Linked DNA regions of Homo sapiens: regions 1 and 2 are each linked to region 3. The links come from fine-mapping of genetic effects on gene expression. A gene starts in region 3. Each other region holds a variant in brackets. All regions are shown on one strand. Distances are from middle to middle.

Region 1 (4,247 bases), 75 kb after region 3:
GCCCAGGCCTGTGTGCAGTGGCACAATCTTGTCTCACTGCAATCTCCACCTCCCAGGCTCAAGTGATCCTCCCGAGTAGATGGGGGACCACAGGCATGACCACCACGTCCGGCTAATTTTTGTATTTTAGTAGAGATGGGGTTTTGCCATGTTGCCGTGTTGCCCACACTGGCCTCAGTCTCCTGGGCTCGAGCGATCCACCTGCCTCAGCCTCCAGAAGTGCTGGGATTACAGGTGTGAACTACCACCCTCGGCCTATGTGTAGCATTATTCTTACGTACATTTTATGTGATACAGTCCCAACTTTATTTCAGAATATTCCAAAAACTTTTATATATAAATCTTTGTTCATTCACAAATCAGATTTAATTTCTGAGCATCTTGGCTACAGTCCTAAATGGGCCTCTCTTAAGGTCAATTTCCTTCCAGGACCCTATGGAACATTAGTTCAACTATGTTCTCCACAACCCGTCCTTATCTTGTACCTTTTTGAATATTTCCAACCCTCACATTCAAGCCATCTAGCTTCACACTTATCCAAGTTCCTCCGTAAATTTATGGTTTCGAATCCTGGGCTTTCTGTAGGAAATCACCATTGTCTTGATCAGTTCCCTTTCGTTCCTCTAAGTGCCTATTTCAAAACACTCTCCTTTTCCTCAAGGTTTTCATTCCCCAGGGGAAATTTTAAAAAAATGAATAAATGAAAGTTCTTAAGCATGAACTCCTGCAACTTCCAATGCCTCCATATAAACTTTTGTGGCTCTCTACCTGTCCTCCTCTACTAATTCCTAGTCTCCTAACTCCTTCCTTTCCCTTCCAGTTCCTTTATCTGTGCTCTACCTCTTATCCTTTCCTTTGTCCTTAACCTTGCTTTAACTGTTATCTTCCTTGTGTCTTCGGCATCTTCTCTGGTTTCATTTCCTTAGTACATGCACATGTACACTTGTTTTTGTCTGTGTACATTTAAGTGTATTTTTGTCACACTAAACTCTTTCCTCTAATGGGCTTCTGACTCCTTTCATAATGAATAAACATGATCTTTTAAAATCTGACAATTGTCTCCTTTTCATAATTCATTTTCTTCCCAGGACTGTGTTCTCATCCCCCCTTTCACTAGCCCATTTCATAACTGTAAGTGTTGTCACCTATCACTAGTATGCTGATGACTCTCTCTTCTGTGTTTTTTGACCACTATATTTGTTTTAAACTTCTTTTTTTTTTTTTTTTTTTCCCCGAGACAGGGTCTTGCTTTGTCACGTAGGCTAGAGTGCAGGCTCACTGCAGCCTCCACTTCCAGGCTTAAGTGATCCTCCTGCATCAGCCCCACAAGTAGCTGGGACTACAGGCACACTCTACCACACCTGGCCAATTTATGTATTTTTTGTAGAGATAGGGTTTTGCCATGTTGCCCAGGCTGGTCTCGAACTCCTGGACTCAGGCAATTCACTTGCCTCAGCTTTCCAAAGTGTTGGGATTACAAGTGTGAGCCACCATGCCCGGCCATTTTAGACTTTCATATCCAATTGCTTCTTGGACATCTCTCCTGGACCGTTCTGCAGTCAGTTCAAACTCAATGTGCCACAAACAGCTCATTATCTGTCTGACCTCTCCATGTGGTCCTTGTGTTATGCCTACATGATATCTTATATATTCATTTGTTTAACACATATTTATTGATGGCACACTATATGTCAGGCACTGTTCTAGGCAGTGGGAACAAAACAGATAAATTTTTGTTCTAACAGAGCTTACCCTCTAGTGGATAGCAATAGCTAACATTTATTGAGCCTATAGTGTTGGCCGGTGGATTTGCCTATAATAACTCTGATTTTTACAGTAACCAGTAAGGCAGATTTTATTACTCTTCTCATTCTACAGGTGAAGTAACATATCCAAGGTTAT[A/G]TGATAGTGGAGCAAGAATTCAAACCTAGGCAGTCTGGCGTGGTACCTCTACTTTTCCCCTTTATGCCAAGATTTCTCAACCTTGGCACTACTATTGACTTTGGGCCAGATAGTTCTTACAGTGGGAGGTGGGGAAAGGCTGTGCTTACAGGATATTTAGCAGCATCCTTGGTTTGTAGCCTCTAAATTCCAGTAACATCACCTCCCTTCCAATTGTAACAACCAAAAATGTCTGCAGGCATTGCCAGATACTGGGGACAGCATTGCTTTATGCTATGCTAGAACCCAGTGTTTCTGTTCTAATACTGGTTGATTTGTATCCTAAATTGTCTCCATGCTTGATGATGAGCTTCCTTAAGGGCCAAAGAGCAAGTGTTTCTCTTCTTGGCGCTTAGCTACATGATTGCATGCTGCTTTTCCCTTGTGAGTTGAAATTAAATATAGAAAGTGCTTATTGAGCCACCTACATTGTGCAAGCATGTTTCTGGTTGCTAGAGATAAAAACAGCAAAAGCAGACCATACCGTAAGTTATGTTAAAGGCCAGGACTTTCATTTTCACCTTTGTATTATCCAGTGCCTTTTGTAGATCTTTTACCACGACTTTATTATGTGTAAGACTGTTGAATGAATGAGTAATTCATGCCTGCCTCTCGATAATCCTGCTAGAGTTACTGAAGGCACTCCTAGGAGGCACTTTAACCAAATTATTGTCCCTGGGTTGTGGAGTTAATTTCCCTAATGCAGGTTCATGATTGTCTCATTTTTAGTGGGCCCTCTATGGGTTAATTTTAATAGAAAAGGAAGTGTTTTATTTACTGAATCATATATCTCTGTATTTCACCTCTAATTTATGACAGTTTTATTTGGGTAGTAACTCTCGAATGAGAGGCTAATTGGTTGTCTTTAGTTTTGGATGCAAGCCTGTTTGAGAAACAAAGAGGTTCTGGACTATATATATTCAAAATGCTCGAAGGCAAAAGAGGACAAGCTGTTTCTGAACAGATACATGTCATATCCATCACTTTAGTGATGGTTACAAACTCATACCCTGACTTTTAGAGTCAACGTAATCCTCAAATAACTTGGTTTGTAAAATTAAAGTGTCAGAGTTGGAAGGAACCATGAAGGTAATTTAGCGTATCCCAGTGAGTGAGCTTAGTATCCCAAAGGTTTTCAACCTTTTTTTCCTGATGCAATACACAATAAATGATATTGACTTGTATAACACTTTTACATAGAGACTAAGATAAAACCCTGAAAATGCTGTAGCAAGTAAAGCTACTGTAATAATGAGTAATTACTATACATATTATAATTTATAGGAAACAGTTACTTAATGTTGGGTTCAGCATAGCCCTAAAAGACTTTTGATCATGGTCAGTTCCTGATATGCTAGTTTTAACACTTGACCAGGTTATTCAACACATTTGGAATACAAGTGAATGAAAGTAACATAATTATAGAACTGACTTTGGAACTGCTATTATTTGTTCTAAAAAGTAAATAATCTGGCCGGGCGTGGTGCCTCACGCCTGTAATCCCAGCACTTTGGGAGGTCGAGGTGGGTGGATCACGAGGTCAGGAGATCGAGACCATCCTGGCTAACATGGTGAAACCCCGTCTCTACTAAAAATACAAAAAAATTAGCCGGGCTTGGTGGCGGGCGCCTGTAGTCCCAGCTACTCGGGAGGCTGAGGCAGGAGAATGGCGTGAACCCGGGAGGCAGAGCTTGCAGTAAGTGGAGATTGCGCCACTGCACTCTAGCCTGGGCGACAGAGCAAGACTTTGTCGCAAAAAAAAAAAAAAAAAAGGAAATAATTTGTCGACTTTGTTTTTTTGTTACAAATTACAATATTTAACATAATTCTAGGGGCAGTTAGAGGTTAGTGTCAGTTTGTATTTTTCTTCCGTCCAAGTTCACAGACGCGTGAATTCTAGTTCCCAGGTTAAGAACCTTTACAAAAGGGTTTGGGAGATTAGCCCCCATAGGCCAGACTAGCAGCTTGGAAAAAACGAATATACAGAAATTTAGATTAGAGCTACTGTGTAACAGAGGTTAGAGCACAGACCTTGAAGAGATGAGAATCCGGAAAGGCAGGATAAGACATGTAAGAGAGGGCAGAGCCAGGAGAATTTTAGGGAAATTTGCTGAATCTTACCAAGCAGAGCCTGAAGCACCCCCCTACCCAGGTTCATTTATGTGAACCCATAATTCCCTTTATTATTTAAGCTGTTTTGGTTGGATTTTTATTTTATTTGTAAACAAGCAGAAGATTCCTAATTGATACATTGACCCAGAAGAGATTAGCTAGGTACTTTGAGCCCCATAGGAGCAGGGTATCCT
Region 2 (4,247 bases), 530 kb after region 3:
GATGTGAATGCAATGCAGATTTCTTTTTGGAGTGATTAAGTGCAGTTCTTATCATGGATCTCAGGGAGCCAGTGAAAGGGATATGGAGAAGAAGCTCAGCCAGATGTCAGCCAGGCTTGACAAAATAGAAGAGGGTCAAAAGAAGACTTTTGATGGTCAGAGAACAAGGCAAGAAGAGGAGAAGATGCACGGGCGAATCACCAAGCTGGAGTTACAGATGAACCAGAACATCAAGGAAATGAAAGCAGAAGTTAATGCTGGTAGGCCAAAACCAGAACAGCTCACGTGCTTTATTTTCTGTTTGTTCTAAAACCTATTAATTAGTATCCCCTGCAACTACCTATGAACCTGGCTAATGGTAATAACCGTGAAATATCCTTAGTTGATTTTCTGAGTAGCTGTGCTGTATTTTCTAAGTAGCTACAATGCTGTTTGAATTTCAGCTATATAAAGAGCCACCGTGAGAGACAGGCAAACAGAACTGAAATTGCTTAGCCTGCAACTGAGGTACATTTTCTTCAGCACCATCGGCCAATTCTTTTCTGTTCATAGCCAAGGTTAACATGTCTCAGAAGGAAGCACATATCTTTGAGGGGGTTTTGAGGGCTTATTTTATAGTGCTAGCAGTACAGTACCACCCTGGCAAAGAATGATTTTCCTCTACTGGCAGGTCAGCAGGGCGCATTAATTCACACTTGCTTAGAGGAGAACATTAGCACTGATTTCAAGTTCTGAGTGCTGTCATATATGGGAGGGATTAGATTTACGCTCTGAACTCAGGAATACAGAACTGTGACCACTAAGTGGAAGGTACCCGAAGACAGATTTTAACTCAATATGAGGCAGAAGTACCTTGAAGTTAATGAGTCCTAAAAGACTGATGGCTTTCGGAGCTTGAGAGCTCTTTGTTACAGAAAATATTCAAGTAGAGGCTGGTTGATTGTGGTCAGGAAGAAGACGTTCCTGTAGTGTGAGAAGTGGAACTAAATTCTCTCCTAGCTTCTTCCAGTTGTATGATTCCATGAATTTTCTTCTATGAAATTGTTCTGTTTTGGCCACATGGAAATAAAAGTGCTAGTTATCCCTAGAATAATTTTGTTATTACCACCAAATGTTTATTATTTTATTTATAGGAGCTACAATTAAATATATGAATTGGAGAACTTGTAAAGATAAAAATGAATTTTCTTTCTTAGTCTTTGGACTATTAAAATATGGTATTTGAATATTTCATCAATGTTTAACCTCGCATCATTCCCTGAAGGAATGTATTGTTATTTAACATACCATTGAGGATGTTAATATTTAGCACCTAATATGAAAAGCATCTGAGCCTTTTAAAAAATAAAGCCATTTTCTTTATTACAAAGACAATATATTTCTTCTTTCTTCCTTTTTTTTTTTTGTTTTGGAGACAGAATCTTGCTCTGTTGCCAGCCTGGAGTGCAGTGGCGTGATCTTGGCTCACTGCAACCTCTGCCTTCAGGGTACAAGCGATTCTCCTGCCTCAGCCTCCTGAGTAGCTGGGATTACAGGCGCCTGACATCACGGCCGGCTAATTTTTTTTTTTTTTTTTTAATAGAAACAAGGTTTCACCATGTTGGCCAGGCTAGTCTTGAACCCCCAACCTCAAATGATCCTCCCGCCTCGGCCTGCTGAAGTGCTGGGATTACAGGCAAGAGCCACCAGGCCTAGCCTCATGATGCCTTTTTACCCCTTTATTATTTCCATTTTTTTGGAAATTAAAAAAAATGACAGAATGAGACAGAGGCTCACTCTGTTGCCTAGGCCGGGGTGAAGTGGTGTGATCGTAGCTCACTACAGCCTCCTGGGCTCAGGTGAGCCCCCTGCCTCGACCTCCTGAGCAGCTAGGACTATGGGCATGTGCCACCATGCCCAGCTCATTTTTTTATTTAAAAAATTTTTTTAGAGATGGGTCCTCAGTATGTTGCCCAGACTGGTCTGGAACTCCTGGCCTCAAGCAGTCCTCTTGCCTTGACCTGCCAAAGCTCTGGAATTACAGGTGTGAGCCGCTGCCTGGTTGCCCTTTTATTATTTCAGTGTATATATCCTAAGAACAAGGATATTCTCTTATAAATAACTTTAATACAATGTATCATCAATGAAATATTTTTTAATATTCAATTTTCAACGTGCCATTATTTCCTTTATAGCAACCCTTTTCCAGTCTAGTGTCTTTTTTTTTCTAATTACATGTTTTTTAAATAAAAAAAATTGTTGTGTATATTTAAGGTATACAACAAGATGTTTATATTTTGATATATATATACATAGTGAAATAGTTACTGTATTCAAGCAGGTTAACATATGTATCATCTCACAGGTATTTGTGTGTGTGTGT[C/CTG]TGTGTGTGTGTGTGTGTGTGTGTGTGTGTGTGTGGCAAGAACACCTGAAAATGTACTCTTTTAGCAAAAATCCCAAATACAATACAATATTATTGACTGCAGTCCTCATGCTATACATTAGACATCTGGTCTTGTTCATTCTCCATATCAGCAATTTGTATCTTTTGACCTGCATCTCCCCATTTCCTCCTCTTCCGCCCCACCTTTGGCAACCACCATTTTATTCTCTATGTTTTTGACTTTCTTTCTTTTCTTTTTTTTTTTAGACAGAGTCTTGCTCTGTCGCCCAGGCTGGAGTGCAGTGGTGCAGTCTCGGCTGACTGCGACCTATTCTTCGCAAGTTCAAGTGATTCTCATACCTCAGCCCCGCGGGTAGCTGGGATTGTAGATGTGCACCACCAGGCCCAGCTAATTTTTGTATTTTTAGTAGAGATGGAGTTTCATGGTGTTGGCCAGGCTGGTCTCAAACTACTGACCTCAAGTAATCCACCCGCCTCGGCCTGCCTTCCTCCCTCCCTCCCTCCCTCCTTTCCTTCCTTCCTTCCTTCCTCCCTCCTTCTCTCTTTCTCTCTTTCTTTCCTTTCTTTCTCTTTCTTTTCTTTCTTCCTTTCTTTCCTTTCCCTTCCCTTCCCTTCCCTTCCTTTCCCTTCCCCTCCCCTCCCCTTCCCTTCTTCCTTCCTTTTCTTTTTTTAGATTCCACATATGAGATCGTGCAGTATTTTTCTTTCTGTATCTGTCTTATTTCACTTAGCATAATGTCCTCCATTTTTATCCATTTGTGACAAATGGCAGGCTCTCCTTTTTTGTAAAGCTGAATAATATTCATCATTTGTATATATACACAATTTCTTTATTCACTAATTTTTTGATGGACACACTTCAGTTGTTTCCATATCTTGGCTATTGTAAATAATGGTGCAGTGAACAGGGGAGTGCAGATATCTTTATGAGGCAGTAATTTAATTTCTTTTGGGAATATACCCAGTAGTGAGATTGCTGGGTCGTATGGTAGTTCTATTTTAAATTTCTTTAGTAACCTCTATACCAAGCTTGTCCAACCCACATCCCGCAGGCCACATGCGACCCAGGATGGCTTTGAATGCAGCCTAACCCAAATTCGTAAACTTTCTTAAAACATTATGAGATTTTTTTGTGATTTTTTTTTTTAAATCACTCATCAGCTATCATTAGTGTTAGTGTATTTGTATTGCCCAAGACAATTCTTTCAGTGTGGCCCAAGGAAGCTGAAAGTTTGGATACCCCTGCCCTATACTGTTTTCCACTATGGCTGCCCCATCCTGCATTCCCACCAACAGTGTACAAGTGTTCCCCTTTCTTCACACCCTCGCTAATGCTTGTACTCGTTTGTCTTTTTGATAATAGCCATCCTAACAGGTGTGAGGTGATAACTCATTGTGGTTTTAATTTGTATTTTTCCTATAATTAGTGATGTTGGCCCTTCAGGTTCTAATCCAGAATTACACATCGTATTTAGTTGTCATGTTTCTTTATTTAGTCTCTATTAATCTGGATCAGTTTCTCAGTGATGTTGACCTTTTTAAAGAATACCAGCCAGCCAGCATTTTGTAGACTATCCCTAGTTTAGATTTGTTTGCTTCATTTTTTTTTTTTTTTTTTTGAGACGAGTCTTGCTCTGTCGCCGAGGCTGGAGTGCAGTAGCACAATCTCAGCTCACTGCAACGTCCGCTTCCTGGGTTCAAGCAATTCTCCCTGCCTCAGCCTCCCGAGTAGCTGGGACTACAGGTGTGCGCCACCATACCCAGCTAATTTTTGTATTTTTAGTAGAGACAGGGTTTCGCCGTGTTGGCCAGGCTGGCTCGAACTCCTGACCTCAGGTGATCCATCCGCCTTGGCCTCCCAAAG
Region 3 (4,247 bases):
GTGTATTTTTCACTTAAAGCACTTCTCAATTATTTTTATTTATTTATTTTTTTAGGGAGACGGAAAAGGAAAAGGGGAGGGGAGAGGGAGAAGAGGAGGGAGTCTAGCCACATTTTAAGTGCTCAGCAGCCACATATGGCTGGTGTCTACCTAATTGAAGAACACAGGTCAAAAGCTTCAGAAAAAAGGTTAGAGCTGGAAATACAGGTTTGAGAAGTCATGAGATAGTAACAGTTAAAATCAAGGGAGAAGATAAGATAGTCCGGGCAAAATTCTATGTTTAAGAGTGAGAAAATAGGAGGATTGAGGAAAATCCTAGTCGAATGCTCTTTTAGTTTTCCCACACAATCTGCTATCCTTGATCATTATTGTAATTTTAAAATCATTTGTGTGTGTGTGTGTGTGTGTGTTTTGTTTGTTTGTTTGTTTGTTTGTTTTGAGACGGAATCTCACTCTGTCGCCCAGGCTGGAGTGCAGTGGCACAATCTCGCACTCACTACAACCTCTGCCTCCCGGGTCCTAGCAATTCTCCTGTGTCAGCCTCCCGAGTAGCTGGGGTTACAGGCGCCCGCCACTACGCCCGGCTAATTTTTTGTATTTTTAGTAGAGACAGCGTTTCACCGTGTTAGCCAGGATGGTCTCCATCTCCTGACCTCATGATCCGCCCGCCTTGGCCTCCAAAAGTGCTGGGATTACAGGCGTGAGCCACCGCGCCCAGCCTTTTTTTTTTTTTTCTTGGAGACGGAGTCTCCCTGTCACCCGGGCTGGGGTGCAATGGCTTGATCATGGCTCACTGCAACCTCGGCCACCCTGGCTCAAGCGATTCTCCTGCCTCAGCCTGCCGAGTAGCTGGGATTACAGGCGTCCGCCACCACGCCCAGCTAGTTTTTGTATTTTTAGTGGAGAAGGAGTTTCACCATGTTGGCCAGGCTGGTCTTGAACTCCTGATCTCAGGTAGTCCACCCGCCTAGGCCTCCCAAAGTGCTGGGATTACAGGCGTGAGCCACCGTGCCCGGCCAAAATCATTTGCTTACTGAATGATACGGAAAATATGAGTGAACAAAAAAAGTATTGAAAAAGATGAGTTGATGGCAAAGGGAGGGAATTAATGTTTAGTGAACACTTAATTGGCAAGTAATGTTCAGAGCATTATATAAATTGTCTCATTTAATCTAACAAGAACCTTTTGAGGTAAATACGTTATCCCAATTTATAGAGGAGGAAACTAAGATTTATAAGGATCTCATCAATCAGAGAACTCTTAAGTGGCACCACTGGACTTTGAAAGGAAGTCTGCCTGATGGACTCTGAAGCTCATCCTCTCTCTATCCTCCTAATGCATATAATGACGCATTTGTTATCTACTGACTTTTATAAAATAAACAAGGAGGCTTATGCGATTGTACAGCCCGAGTTCGCAGGAGATATGTGACCACTTTTGATCTGATTCCGGAAGCAAATTCACTTTAACAGTGAGGTGCCGTGATCTTTATGTCATTAGCGCATATGATATGGGTATCATTTGTTGTGAAAGACACTAACCCATGATGTTTTTGTTTACGTATATCTGTAAATGTATCAATTCTGTAGTTGGTTAATTTTTAGTTACGAAAAAATGAACCAAGATGTAGTCAAGATTTGGCTTAAATGTTGAACGCATAATCACCAAAGAAAATTAAATAATGAGCTTTGTGACACCTTTCAGTTCGCCAACAGACTGATAAAACCAGTACAAAGGGGGAGGGCCGGGACCGAGGGGGCGGGACGGTGAGAAACGGGAATCGAGCAAGCGCAGAAACAAACAGATGTTAATGGAGGCGTGAAGGCTACTGCGCTCTCACTTTCCGAACTGTCGTAAAGAGCCCTAGTGTCGTGCTCTCCTCGGTAGGGGAGGAATTGGTTAGGCGGCGGCGGCGGCGAAGCGGCGGCGGCGGCTGTAGGGGAGCAGCGGCAGTGGCGGCGACGGCGAGGAGGTGTTCGGTTTGCGCAGCGTAGAAACGCCCGCAGCTTCAGAGAAGGAGTTCTTGTGGGACCAAATTAGGCATTCTGAACCCACGCCGGCTTAGCTGGGCCGAGTCCAGGCGCTGCCGCACGTACAGTTTTGGTGGCGGTGACAGACACTGTTCTTGACTCTAGGGGCCTATTAGGCCGACGTCTGAGGCGCAGATCGCTGGCTCTCGACGCATTACTCTTTACGCCTTACATTTCTGTCTTCCTTCCTGGGTCAGTGATTCCCGGACCCTGGAAGAGAAGAGGGTGGCTAATGATTAAGGTGAGGGGAACGGGGGGGGAGGGGATCCATTGGAGGCCGCGCGTGCGCGCAACGGGGGAGGGGCCGGCCTGGAGGGGAGAAAGAGGAAGGGCTGCGGCCGCGGAAGGCTGGGGTCGGTGACCGGCCGGTTATCTCTGGCTCGGTGGTGACTTAGGGTCTGGGTCTCCGCAGACGATTTGTGTTTGGGCAAGGCATTCGTCTACCGACACACCCACAGCCTACAGTGAGGGAGTGTGGGTGAGGGGATTTCTCTCCCACTTCCGACTCTCCCTAGAGTCTCAGGATGGGGGCTGAGGACCGAGGCGTGGGAGTGCGATTTGACAATGGAGTGATGAAGGTAACCCGGACCCGGGGAGTTGGAGGGCGCTAAGTCAGCCCTGACGGCTAGGGAGTCGCCTGCTGCTGCTGTGATCAAGGAAACGTAGTCCGCGGAACAGCTGAAATACAGACGCGTCAGATTTTGTATGGAGTTGGCTTGTTGGTCATTTAAAAAGAAACTGATGTTTTTACTATTGTCCTTCGATAATTTATCAGAGTCAGTGTCAGTGCTATAGTGGGAATATCTGTTCAGTGCAGCAGAAATAGATTTGTTACAACAGTTCTTAAATAGGTTATAGTAGATAGATCTTTACAGATGGGTATTTCTCAACCTAAGTTTTGATTATTCAAAAAATACCAGAAAGTATGAGGTATTCATTTAATTTGTTCGTGTGTGTGTTGTGGGGTGACTCCATTGTGTTGTTGTAAGCTTTCCTGTTTCTTGATTTATGTGCGGCATTAATTTAGAATTCTCTTGAATGGTAAGATGCCAGCTGACATAGACTACGTTTTGTAGGATTTCCTGTAGCTTTTGAATGTGACTTAATCTAAACTTTATTTCATTTGGTATTTTATCTATAATTTTCTTGTTTTAGGGGCCTCTTGAACTAAAAAGAACAAACTGGGAAAAACATAAGCTAAGGTTCCATTTCCTTTCCCATTTTTGTTGTGTGTGTGTGTGATGGTTGTAAATGCTTGAATGTGATTTTGAGATTACCATACACAACTTCTGTAACGCTGGACTTAGCTTTATTACAGTAAAGATACATCTTTTGATAGTTTATTACTATATGTATTTTTGTAAAAATCTTCATGTCAGTATAAGCCACATTGTTTCACCCTAGTCTGGTTATATTTGTGAGGTGAAACAGATGGATAAGAAGGAAGCCCTTTTACTTTTACAATCATTTTAAATTGATTGTTTCTAAAGCCTTGATTTATCTTATTTTGGACACTTTCTTGCCATTTAACCTTGGACAAATGACTTTATCATCTCTCTCCTGCTCATTTGTTTGTGACCAAAGATTCACAACAGTATTCTAAGAATTGGTGAGGGTGTTTATAAATCTAAATAATATTTTAGGAAAAAGTAGGAAGAATGAGTCTCCTTGTTTATCACGGGTGCTATATCATGTGCAGATCCTTCTGTCACTTCTTAACTTTTGTTTGGTGTCTGTTGGCCACTTGTTTGCTAGTTATTTCACCAGACATAGAACTGGTTTTTAAAGAAAGGTATAAACAAAGTGACTTCATTTTGGTGAAAAATGCATTACAGCAGAGGTTACATCTTAACGAATTTCACTTTGGTACTCCATTTCTACAGATTATTGAGAGAGAGCTGTTGTGATGTTTAAGAGAAAAGCACCTTGCTTGTATAAAGCTAAGGTGCAGTCATTTAGCAGATACTCCTAGTTATTTTACTTTAAAATAAAAAATATAAAGGAAACTAATTGAATCAAACCATTTAGATTTTTAGATGTTTCCTTCTTTTTTTTTTTGTTATAGTTTAAAGAGAGGTTTCTGTATCATGCTTTACTTGAGGCATACTTATGTGCCCTTCTTTTGACTTTTTCTCCCCTTTTGGGCCAAGACTTCAGTAGGAAATAAAAGAGACCATCTGAAAAATGATAGCAGTTAAAATATGTTATAACTTGAC

Direction of the effects. Alleles are on the strand shown, and positions count from the first base shown. SD is a standard deviation of normalised expression in the study named. Not every link is listed here.
For the expression in neutrophils of the gene that starts at base 1,867 in region 3, CTG is the high allele of the variant in region 2 and C is the other (moderate effect, 0.47 SD a copy in BLUEPRINT).

The links. PIP is the estimated chance that this variant, and not a neighbour inherited with it, causes the effect.
Region 1: its variant is the best candidate, but not a certain one, in a credible set for the expression of RNF111 in whole blood (TOPMed, PIP 0.60).
Region 2: its variant is the best candidate, but not a certain one, in a credible set for the expression of RNF111 in neutrophils (BLUEPRINT, PIP 0.69).

What each region holds. Positions count from the first base shown.
Region 1 is chr15:59,060,841-59,065,087 of GRCh38, forward strand. All of the region lies in intron 5 of RNF111 (ring finger protein 111), which reads left to right. Among named protein-coding and RNA genes, the nearest start is that of CCNB2, 42 kb to the right of the region's middle. The variant A/G (reference allele first, on the strand shown) is at 1,903.
Region 2 is chr15:59,516,581-59,520,827 of GRCh38, forward strand. FAM81A (family with sequence similarity 81 member A) reads left to right here. Exons shown (of 9, transcript NM_152450.3): 8 at 65-260. Among named protein-coding and RNA genes, the nearest start is that of FAM81A, 81 kb to the left of the region's middle. The variant C/CTG (reference allele first, on the strand shown) is at 2,363.
Region 3 is chr15:58,985,797-58,990,043 of GRCh38, forward strand. RNF111 (ring finger protein 111) reads left to right here and starts at 1,867. Exons shown (of 14, transcript NM_017610.8): 1 at 1,867-2,272. RefSeq lists a silencer at 2,586-2,750.